Linked DNA regions of Homo sapiens: region 1 is linked to region 2. Evidence: fine-mapped expression QTL. A gene starts in region 2. The other region holds a variant in brackets. All regions are shown on one strand. Distances are from middle to middle.

Region 1 (5,369 bases), 530 kb after region 2:
AACTGTACCACCAAATAAAAGATATGCTGCCCGAAGGGCTTGGTGCTAGATAAGTTTCCTGAGTTCTCCCTATCCTCTGCCCTGAACGATATATGTAAGCTAATTCATCCAATACATGGCTACAACAAACAGTATCTGAGAAAGCTGCCACACAGAAGGTATCCACAACTAGGGAACACATACAGAGCTTTGGCCCCCTGAAAGCACCCAGGAACTAAGCCAAACAATTATGCACATCCAGACAAGCAACTGCTAAAAGAAATAATCACCACCAAATCAATCTCGCAAGAAATGCTCAAAGGAGTTCTAAAGATGAAAATGAAAGATACCTGCTACCATAAAAGTGCATGTAAGTATAAAGCTCACGTATCATATGAAGCAATTATACAATTGAGACGGCAAAGCAACTAGCTGACAATACTATCACAAGGACAAAACCTTACATAGCAGTATCAACCTTGAACATAAATAAATGAAATGGCACATTTAAAAGACACAGAGTGGCAATTTGTATTTAAAAAAAAAAAAAAAACGACCCAACCTTCTGCTGCCATCTCATATGTAATGACACCCAAAGGCTCAACATAAAGGGATAAAGATCACACAAATGCAAAGCAAAAAAAAAAAAAGAGAGAGCAGGGGTTGCTCTTATTCTATGAGATAAAACAGACTTAAGACCAGCAACAGGAAAAAAAAGACAAAGAAGGCCATCATGCAATGATAAAGCGGTTCAATTCAAAAGAAGATTTAACTATCTCAAATATATACACACCCAATATCATACCACCCAGGATATAAAACATATACTACCAAAATTACAAAAAGAGACAGAGAGCCATACAGCAATAGTGGAGAATTTCAATACCCACAGACAGAACTAGACACATCACTGAGGCAGAGAAAAAAGAAACTGTGGACTTAAATTAAACTCTTCACCAAATGACCTAATAGACATCTACAGAATACTCCAAGCAACTACCACAGAATATACCTTTTTCTCATCTGCGCATGGGACATTCTTAAAAATTGACCATTGGGGAGTAGCAAAGATGGCTGACTAGAAGAAGCTAGTGTATGTGGCTCTCACAGGAACAAAAGGGGTGAGTAAATACAACACCTTCAACTGAAACATCCAGGTACTCACATTGGGATTAATCAAGGAAACAACTTGACCCACAGAGAACAAAGAAAAGCAAGACAGGACAACGACCCACCTGGGAGCAACATAGAGCCAGGAGATCCTCCACCACCCAGCAAAGTGGTGAGTGAATGAGCAACCCTGGAAAACCATGCTTCTCCCACAGATGTTTGCAACCCTCGGATCAGGAGATCCCACTAAACCAGGACTTTCAGTCTTCAGTCTGAGCTACGTAGAGTCTCGGCAGAGCAGCCACTCAGGCATGCATGGAGACCCTGGAGCCCTAGATACTTGGGCTTCCAGCAAAAGTAACTAGAGCTACAGCAAAGTGGAAGGTTAGACTGCTGTATGTACCCCTAGGAAAGAGACTGAATCCAGAAAGCTCAGCAGCAACGGCCTGCAGGCCCCACTTCCATGGCACCTCAGAAGATAAGACCCACTGGCTTGGAATTCCAGCCAGCTACAAGTAGTGGCACTAAACCTCCCTAAGAAGGAGCTCCCAGGGGGAGGGGCAGGCTGCCATCTTTGCTGTTTGGGCGACTTGGCCATTCCAGACTTTGGGCTTTGGAGTCTCTGAAGTGAGCAGGGACTGAACAGGACCCCAAGCACAGCACATCTGCTCTACCAAAACATGGCCTGACTGCTTTTTTAAGTAGGTCCTGACCCATTACTCCTCACCAAACAGGACCTCTCAACCGTGGTCTCCAGCCAACTCCTACAAGTGGCTTTGGGCCAGCAGCCAGTTGAGTATACCCCAAGCATACAGTAGCAGCCCTTTGGAAAAGTGGCCAGATTATTGTATGAGTACCTGTTCCCATATCTCCTCACTGGGTAAGTCCTCCAGGCCTAAGCCTCAACTATCAACTATAGAGCCAGAACTATCAAGCCAGTACCAACTCAGCAACTCCCTAAGCAGAGCCTCCAGGGGCATCTGAAAGCCTCTCTGGCACTGCTTCTGCAATGGAAGTGCCCTTCCTATCCTCAGAAAAGAGGAAGAAAAGACCCTAAGGGCCTTATCCACACCTCCAACAAGCTGCAGTCAACCCAAAAAGAGCAGGCCATTCTGTCTCCTGCAGGTCCCATACAACCCCCATGGCTCATCACCAGACAAGGAACCCCTGACTTGGGCCCACAGTACAAACCCTCCATCATGGACTGACTGCACTGAGCAAATTCTGACCTGCATCTCTCTGGGTTGGGGTCCCCAAGAGTCAACCAAATGACCCTTGGCCACAACCAGTACCAAGATCTCTTCCTCTGCTGCCTCTAAGCTGGGAAAGAAACATAAACACT[C/T]GGCACAGAGCTGCAGTGGGCAGCCAAGAAGTACAAAGTCATAAATTACAGCCAGCACTCAAGAAAGAGAGAAACCCACACTTCCACAGCATTGAGAGGGAACATTGCTGCAACTATGAGGAAACACAGAGGAGCCACACAACTGAGCAAGAGTCTACCAACTGACCAATGAGCCTAAGTGTCGCCTTCTGGATTATATCCCAAAACTTCAACACCAAAAATACCTCACTAACATAACTCCCTCTGAAACTAGAGACAAGAAGTCAGCTTCAAATAAAACCCCCACACAAAGCCTCAGCTTGGTGAAAACATCCAGAAAAGTCAACTGACTGTACTCAACCTACACTGTAGTTAAAGGAACACCCACATGCAGAGATGAGAAAAAATCAATGTAAGAACTCTGGCCAGAGTGTCATATGTCCTACAAAAAAACCACACCGGGCCGGGCGCAGTGGCTCACACCTGTAATCCCAGCACTTTGGGAGGCCGAGGGGGGTGGATCACGAGGTCAAGAGATTGAGACCATCCTGGCCAACACCGTGAAACCCAGTCTCTACTAAAAATACAAAAATTAGCTGGGCATGGTGGCATGTGCCTGTAGTCCCAGCTACTTGGGAGGCTGAGGCAGGAGAGAATCGCTTAAACCTGGGAGGCAGAGGCTGCAGTGAGCCAAGTTCATGCCACTGTACTCCAGCCTGGCGACAGAGTCAGATTCCGTCTCAAAAAAAAAAAAAAAAAAAAAAAACCATACCAGTTCTCCAACAAGAGTTCTTGACCAGGCTGAACTAGCCGGAATGACAGAAATAGAATTCAGAATTCAGAATACAAGTAGAAACAAAAATAATCGAGAGTCAGGAGGATGACAATATGAAACCCAAGGAAAATAAGAACCACAATAAAGTGATACAGGAGCTAAAGGACAAAATAGCCAATATAAAAAAGAACCTAACGGGTCTGACAGAGCTGAATAACACAATACAAGAATTTCACAGTGTAATCACAAGTATTAACATGAGAATAACCAAGCTAAGGAAAGAATCTCAGAACTTGAATACTGGCTCTCTAAAATAAGACAGAGAAAAATAAAGAAAAATAGAATAAAAAGAAATGAACAAAACCTCTGAGAAGTATAAAATTATGTAAAAAAGAGGCCAAATCTATGAATCATTGGCATCCCTGAAAGGGAGGGGGAGAAAGCAAACGACCTGGAAAATATATTTCAGGATATCATCCATGAAAACTTCCCCAACCTTGCTAGAGAAACCAACAGTCAAATTCAGGAAATACAGAGAACTCTTGCAAGATTCTACATAAGAAGATCATCCCCAAGACACATAACTGTCAGATTTTCCAAGGTTTGAATAAAAGAAAGAATGTTAAAGGCAGATAAAGAGAAAGTGCAGGTCACCTACAAAGGGATCCCCATCAGGGCAACAGCAGACGTCTCAGCTGAAACCCTACAAGCCAGAAGAGACTGGGAGCCTATACTAAACATTTTATTTTTATTATTATTATTATTATTATTATTATTATATTTTAAGTTACAGGGTACATGTGCACAACGTGCAGGTTTGATACATATTTATATATGTGTCGTGTTGGTATGCTGCACCCATCAACTCGTCATTTACATTAGGTATTTCTCCTAATGCTATCCTTCCCCCTGACCCCCATCCCACAACAGGCCCCAGAGTGTGATGTTCCCCGTCCTGTGTCCAAGTGTTCTCATTGTTCAGTTCCCACCTATGAGTGAGAACATGTGGTGTTTGGTTTTCTGTCCTCGTGACAGTTTGCTCAGAATTATGGTTTCCAGCTGCATCCATGTCTCTGCAAAGGACATGAACCCATCCTTTTTTATGGCTGCATAGTATTCCATGGTATATATGTGCCACATATTCTTAATTCAGTCTATCATTGATGGACATTTGGGTTGGTTACAAGTTTTTGCTATTGTGAATAGTGCTGCAATAAACATACGTGTGCATGTGTCTTTATAGCAGCATGATTTATAATCCTTTGGGTATACACCCAGTAATGGGATTACTGGATCAAATGGTATTTCTAGTTCTAGATCCTTGAAGAATCACCACACTGTCTTCCACAATGGTTGAACTAGTTTACACTCCCACCAACAGTGTAAAAGCATTCCTATTTCTCCACATCCTCTCCAGTATCTGTTGTTTCCTGACTTTTTAATGATTGCTATTCTAACTGGTGTGAGATGGTATCTCATTGTGGTTTTGATTTGCATTTCTCTGATGACCAGTGATGATGAACATTTTTTCATGTGTCTGTTGGCTGCATAAATGTCTTCCTTTGAGAAGTGTCTGTCCATATTCTTTGCCCACTTTTTGATGGTGTTTTTTCTTGTAAATTTGTTTAAGTTATTTGTAGATTCTGGATATTAGTCCTTTGTCAGATGGGTAGACTGCAAAAATGTTCTCCCATTCTGTAGGTTGCCTGTTCACTCTGATGGTAGTTTCTTTTGCCGTGCAGAAGCTCTTTAGTTTCTGTGCACAAACTAAAGGAAATAAATAATTTTTGAAAAGAATCTCCCAAGATTGAATCAGGAAGAAACTGGAGTCCTGAACAGACCAATATGAAGTTTAAAAATTGAATCAGTAATAAAAAACCTACCAAGCAAAAAAAGCCCTGGACCAGGCAGATTCACAGCCGAATTCTAACAGATGTACAAAGAAGAGCTGCGACCAATCTTACCAAAACTATTCCAAAATATCAAGGAGGAGGAACTCCTTCCTAACTCTTCTACTAAACCATTATCATCCTAGAACAAAAATCTGGCAAGGACACAACAAAAATAGAAAACTATAGGCCAATATCCCTGATAAACATAGATGCAAAAGTCCTCAACAAACTACTAGCAAACTGAATCGAGCAGCGCATCAAAAGATAATTAATCACTATCAAAAGGGTTTGA
Region 2 (5,369 bases):
CAGAACCACAGCAGACAGTATCTTGTACACTAGAAATCAACATAACCGGATTCCCTTCTCATCGTTTAAAAAAAAAAATCCCCCAAAATCTAAGAACTTAGTTTTGGTGGTGGACAGGACTTTGATCCCCACCCAAATGAACCAAAATAACCCAGGAGATAATTCAAACCAAAGTGGTAGGGTAGAGAGGGGATCAGATTTTAAAATAACTGCTTTTGTGACACAAACATGACGCTGGGAAAGACAGGCTTGGGCTAGGCAGTGTCTCTGACGATGACTATCACCATGTGTTCTTCTTCTAGCTTGCCCAATGTCCTTAGTGCTGACTGGAGGTACTGCTGGGAAAAGTCGCAGGGTGGGAAGGCGTAGAGCATGCCTGTGCCGTCTCTGCCCTTGGACCCCCCCACTGGCAAGCTGATCACCCCTGCGGCCTGCTTCTGTTTCAAGTAGGAGACCAGGTTCCTGAGAAGCCGCCTCTGCAGACCGGGCTCTACTGTGGGCATCCCCTCAGTGCCAAGCCCACTGGGGGTTGCCTGGGTGGCTAAGAGGACCGCATAGCCGTTGGGGCTCCCCTGCTTGATGCGTCGTGTGACCTCGTCAAGCTTGGGCTGGTCCAGTCGAAGGCGCTGGGCGATCTTCAGCTGGGTCAGCTTGCTCCCAGAAGTGTGGTCTTTGAGGAGACTGCTGATCACCCCCTGGTCCCCCTCTAGGATATGCATAGACGTGGGGAAGCAGCTGTTTTTCAACACCAGAAGCCCATTCCAACCCAGCTGTAGTGTCTGAGCGTACTCTGAAAGATTCTTCAGCTTTTTGGTCTCGTGTTTTGGCTCTTCCAGAGGCTTGGGCTCGGCCTCTGTGGTCCGGTGATTGCGCTCGCTGTCTCTTGCCTTCTTCCCGTGGGAAGAGTCTGCAGCCTCGTGGTGGTGGTGGTGGTGGCCCCGTTCCTCAGCCCCATGTCTGCTGTTGCTGAGGGAGTTGCTGCTGGACTCCTTGGTCCCTTCACTGGAGTGGTTCTCCTTGCGGCTGCGCTCAGGGGTGCGGTCGGAGCCCCGCTCTGACTGCTGCCCACTGCCCTTGGTCCTACTCCGTTCCTCATATGGTGAATGGGTTGTCCTCCCACGGTCACTGGAAAGGCTTCTCCGTTTCCGCCTCTCTTCCCAGGGCTTGGGCAAACCACGGTCTCCATCTGCCCCCCAACGCTCACCACTCCGGCTGCGCACTGAGCGACTGTAGCCCTCAAGGCTGTTTCGGCGGTCAGAGCTTTTACTGGGGCTGGTCCAGTCCCCTTCCAAAAAAGTCCGGTCTCGGTCTGAGTACAGAAGGTGTGGGGGCGTCCTGTCCCGCACCAGGTCGGCGTCCAGGTTGCGGTGCCGGGTGTATCCATCTGTGAGCAGCTCATAATGCACAGGGAGTGGCGAGGGCTGGTACTGCTGGGGGTACCGAGTCTCCTCTGCTTTGGCAAAATCCACGCGGAGCCTGCGGTCTGGTCCACCCAAGGGAAAACCCCTCATTTTAGCACAGGCGGCCTGGGCTGCGTCCAAGCTCTCGTACTGAATATAGGCAAAGCTATCTCCTTTGACGTGATCAATGGTCCGAATGCTCCCAAAGCGGTCAAACTCTCGGGCCAGAGCCGCCAGTGACGTGTTAGGTCCCAGGCCACCCACCCAGAGACGAGTGGTGGGGTTGGCCTTGCCATAGCCTATCTTAATGGGGTTGCGACCAATCACTCGGCCCGACATGGCCACCTTAGCCCTATGGGCCATGTCCAGGTTCTGGAACTTGAGGAAGGCATAGGCACCGCCCTGGCCACGGGCAGGCCTCTTGATGACCACCTCCTCGATGATGCCATATTTCTCGAAGGCCCTTCGCAGCTCCACCTCAGATACGCTGTGGTCCAGGTTACCAATGAAGAGGTTGCGCGTGGCCCGCTGGTCATCCTCGGGCATCAGGTCCTCCTCACACACAGCTGGGTAGCCATAGGGGCGCCCACGGTCGTCGTACAGCCCGTAGTAGTCCAGGGCCCGCTCCCGGGACAGTCCCACGGCGGCGGCAGCAGCGGCATCCAGGGCGAAGGCTGCGGCGGCGTGACGGGCACGGGGCTCCCGCAGGGGCGGGGCAGCGACGGGGGACAGCGAGCGCTGCTTGTACTGGTAGCCTCCGTGTAGCGGGAGGTAGCCGAGCGGGTCGGCGGGCGCGGGCGGCCCTGGGGGAGGCGTGGAAGCGGCGGCGCTGCTGCTGCTACTTCGCCGACTGCTCCCGCCGCCGCCACGCAGGTACACGGGCTCTACCTTGAGCGGGCGGTCGTAGAGCAGCAGCTGCCGGGCCAGGGCGTGCTGGCGGGCCTCGCGTGCGTCCTGTGGGTGCCGGAAATTCACGTAGGCCACACGGCCCAGCTCAGGCGTGTGCGACAGGCGGAGGCTGATCTCGCCGAAGCGCTTGAACTGGTGGAAGAGCCGGTCCTCGAGGTGCTCGGCGGGCAGCGCGGGGCTCAAGCTGCTGATGAGCAACGTCTTGTACTCAGGCGCGGCCGCGGATGAGCCGGGACACGCGGGCTCGGCCCCAGGCGGTGGCGGAGGCGGCGGCAGAGGAGACGCGCGGGGCGACATGCCGGAGGCGCCCGGGTCCCCCGAGGCCTTGCCGCCGCGTCCCCCGCCGCCAGCGCCGGAGCCCGAGGAGCGCCCGCTACTCGCGCGGTGATTCGCGTCCCCGGTGCCGCGGCCGTCGCGATGCCCGCCCCCGCCGCTTCCGCTGCCGCGGGGTTTGTCGCGGGCCCGCGCTGGAACCGGGTGCTTGGCGCCGCCAGAGGCCTTGTGCGCCGCCCGCCGCCCGCCCGCCTCCGCCTCCCGTTCGCGCTCCCGCGGACGCTTGGCGGACGATGACGAGCCGCGCCCGCTCGGGCTAGAGTCTCGCTCGCTCTGCCGCTTCATGGCGCTGGCGCGGCGGGCGGGCGGCCCGTAGGTTTCTCACAGCGGCGGCGGCGGAGGCGGCGGCCGAGGAGGCAGCGCCCCCGGCGCCGCCATCTTGGACAAAAGGACTCGGCGCGGCGGTGGCGGCGGGGCGGGGCGGGAGCGGCGCCGAGGGGCCGGGCATTGCGTTATCAAGGTGCGCCGTCCTGCCACGTGACTCTGCGGCGGGCGGAGCAAGACCCGCGCCGGGCCTGCCTCATCGCGCTGCGTCGCCCAGTGCCAGGTGACCCTGTGAGTGCTGGGTGAGTGGGACCGGCCGCGCGCTCTGGCGCCACCGCGCGGCCCGCATGGCCGATGCTTGAGGCTACGCGGAGTGTAGTGAACCCTGAGAGGCCGGCGAGACGACCTAACGCTTTGTGCTCCCAGCCGTGCTTTGCCGCTCTGGGTCCAGCTATCTCCTCTTGCAGGCACTGGAGCCCGCGCTGATTGGAGCAGGAGTGGCAGCTTCCATGGCCGTTGGGATCTGGGGCATTGACCCAGTCAGTGGTCTCTTTATGTAGTATCCCCTCAGTCCTAGGACTAGGCTTGAGCAAACCCCACATCACCCTCGTTGGCATCTCCTGCCTGGGATCCGGCGTTGACGGCGCCAAGGACTAATGCATGCCTATCCTTAGACCCTGCCCAGGACCCAAGGCCCACATTCTGCGCATTCTCCACGTGCAGGTTCACCTGCAGCAGTCCCCGAAAAGGCCGTGAGGACAATTGCTGTCACGCAGGTAATAACCGAAAGCAGAGACAAGCCTGCAGTTGCAGTTGATGGAGTTGGAATAGACTCTTTAACGCCACTCTTGGGTCCCACCCTCTTCTGTGGGCAGATAGCAGGCTGGAAAGGTAGGGCCGTAAGAGCCAAGGATGAAGAGGCCATATGCACAGATAGTGCCAGCAGTTATCACACCTTGCCACGCTGACCCCTCGCTGGCCAGTACCCTCCTGTTCATCACCTTCAGGACGACCTCTTCTCCCCAGGTGAGGTGAGGGAAAGGGTGCCCAGGTGCTCAAGCCCATTGAGGAAGCTTTCATTCTCCAAGGACAGTTGCTGGAGCCATGGTAGAACCTGACCCAATTTCTGGCACAGAATCCTTGCGATGGGGAAGAGCAGACCAAGTCATGCCCTCTTCGCACAAAGAGAAAGCAGCTCCTGGAGTAGCTCAGGCAGGTGCAGGGGGAAAGGTCTTGGAAGAAAGCAATGGGTTCCACAGCAGCAAGGCCTCCTACAGGCAAACTGAGCTTAGGAGACACAAGTGAAGTGATCTGAGGCAAGACCAATTACTTGGAAAGCACTGGTTCTTAGTCCGTCCTTTCAGGTGGTTTCTACAGGTGTCTTCATTGAGCCACAGCTCACACTAACAACTGGGTTTCCTAAGCACCAGTGCCACAGAGAGTGGCTTAAGAAGCAGACTCCAGCAAAACCCTGGACCTCAACTGTTAGACTAATCTAGGGTAAACAAAGGCAAAAGGCAGCTTCCCACTCCCTCTTTGTATAAGCTGACTCCTGCCAGACTTGCAAAAACTGGAACAGACATCAGAGGCTTGGAATGGACAAAAGAGCAAGTAGGTGGCCAGGCCAACAGCATCTTTATAGAGATGTCAGTGCTGACGTGCACTGATTGAAGATATCCTTGTGGAAAAACCACACTCCAGACACCCTGTCTTGCTTGTACTGAGCCACAATATAAGGCCCTCCAATGTATCCCAGACTCACTCCTCCTAGAGCTGTGGCCTCCAGCTCTCTTGGGCGGGTAAGACAGATACTGTATCAAGGGGCAGGGTATCAAGCGCAGCACCCCCCGCCCCCGCCACCTCCTTTCTGCTGAGTGCCTGCTGCCCTCTAGTGGTACACACCCACACACATCAGCTGGCCCCAGCCCCTATGTCCTGCTCTGGTATTTTCAGCACTGGTGGGTTGAGAGATAAATGGGAATGAATAACCCCCCAAACTCTGCAACTGGAAAGCAGAAACTGGTAGGAGCCTCCTGGGGCAAAACCCCATTTTGGTATTCACTATAATTCTGCAAGGACAGCTAGAAATTTTTTTTCTTTAATAAAAAAATCCCAGACACACTTTGAAGTCCTAGAGTACACCAGCAACAGAAGGAAGGGAATCCCCTCATGGGGGTACTGTAGGGCCAGCATCATCAGGAAAGCTCCAGGCTTCACATCTGATACAGTATTGTCAGGAGCCCACTTAAAAAATAAATTACAAAAAGGCTGTTTTGGGAGTAAGCAGTTGAACTGTTTTTTCCCCCTCAGGTGCAACAGAGATTGAGCAGACTACAAATCGGTCCGTGCACTGGCTGCCTTGGGGGCATATTTAGGCATCAGTTCATTTATCTTCCGGATGTAGTCAGACTTTTCTGCACAGCCTTTGCATGTCTCCCCCCAGTCATCCAGAATCTTCTTCAG

Which allele goes with the higher level. Positions count from the first base shown, and alleles are read on the strand shown. Sizes are in standard deviations (SD) of each study's normalised expression.
For the expression in whole blood of the gene that starts at base 3,042 in region 2, C is the low allele of the variant in region 1 and T is the other (small effect, 0.18 SD a copy in Lepik 2017).

What was found. PIP is the estimated chance that this variant, and not a neighbour inherited with it, causes the effect.
Region 1: its variant is the best candidate, but not a certain one, in a credible set for the expression of RBM15B in whole blood (Lepik 2017, PIP 0.54).

Annotation. Positions count from the first base shown.
Region 1 is chr3:50,857,018-50,862,386 of GRCh38, reverse strand. All of the region lies in intron 3 of DOCK3 (dedicator of cytokinesis 3), which reads right to left. Among named protein-coding and RNA genes, the nearest start is that of MIR4787, 180 kb to the right of the region's middle. The variant C/T (reference allele first, on the strand shown) is at 2,432.
Region 2 is chr3:51,388,958-51,394,326 of GRCh38, reverse strand. RBM15B (RNA binding motif protein 15B) reads right to left here and starts at 3,042. Exons shown (of 1, transcript NM_013286.5): 1 at 1-3,042. The coding sequence starts at 2,927. The coding sequence ends at 255. MANF (mesencephalic astrocyte derived neurotrophic factor) reads right to left here. Exons shown (of 4, transcript NM_006010.6): 4 at 4,930-5,369. The coding sequence ends at 5,238. RefSeq lists enhancers at 520-1,027, 1,028-1,533, 3,519-3,568 and silencers at 2,429-2,488, 2,599-2,678, 2,719-3,198.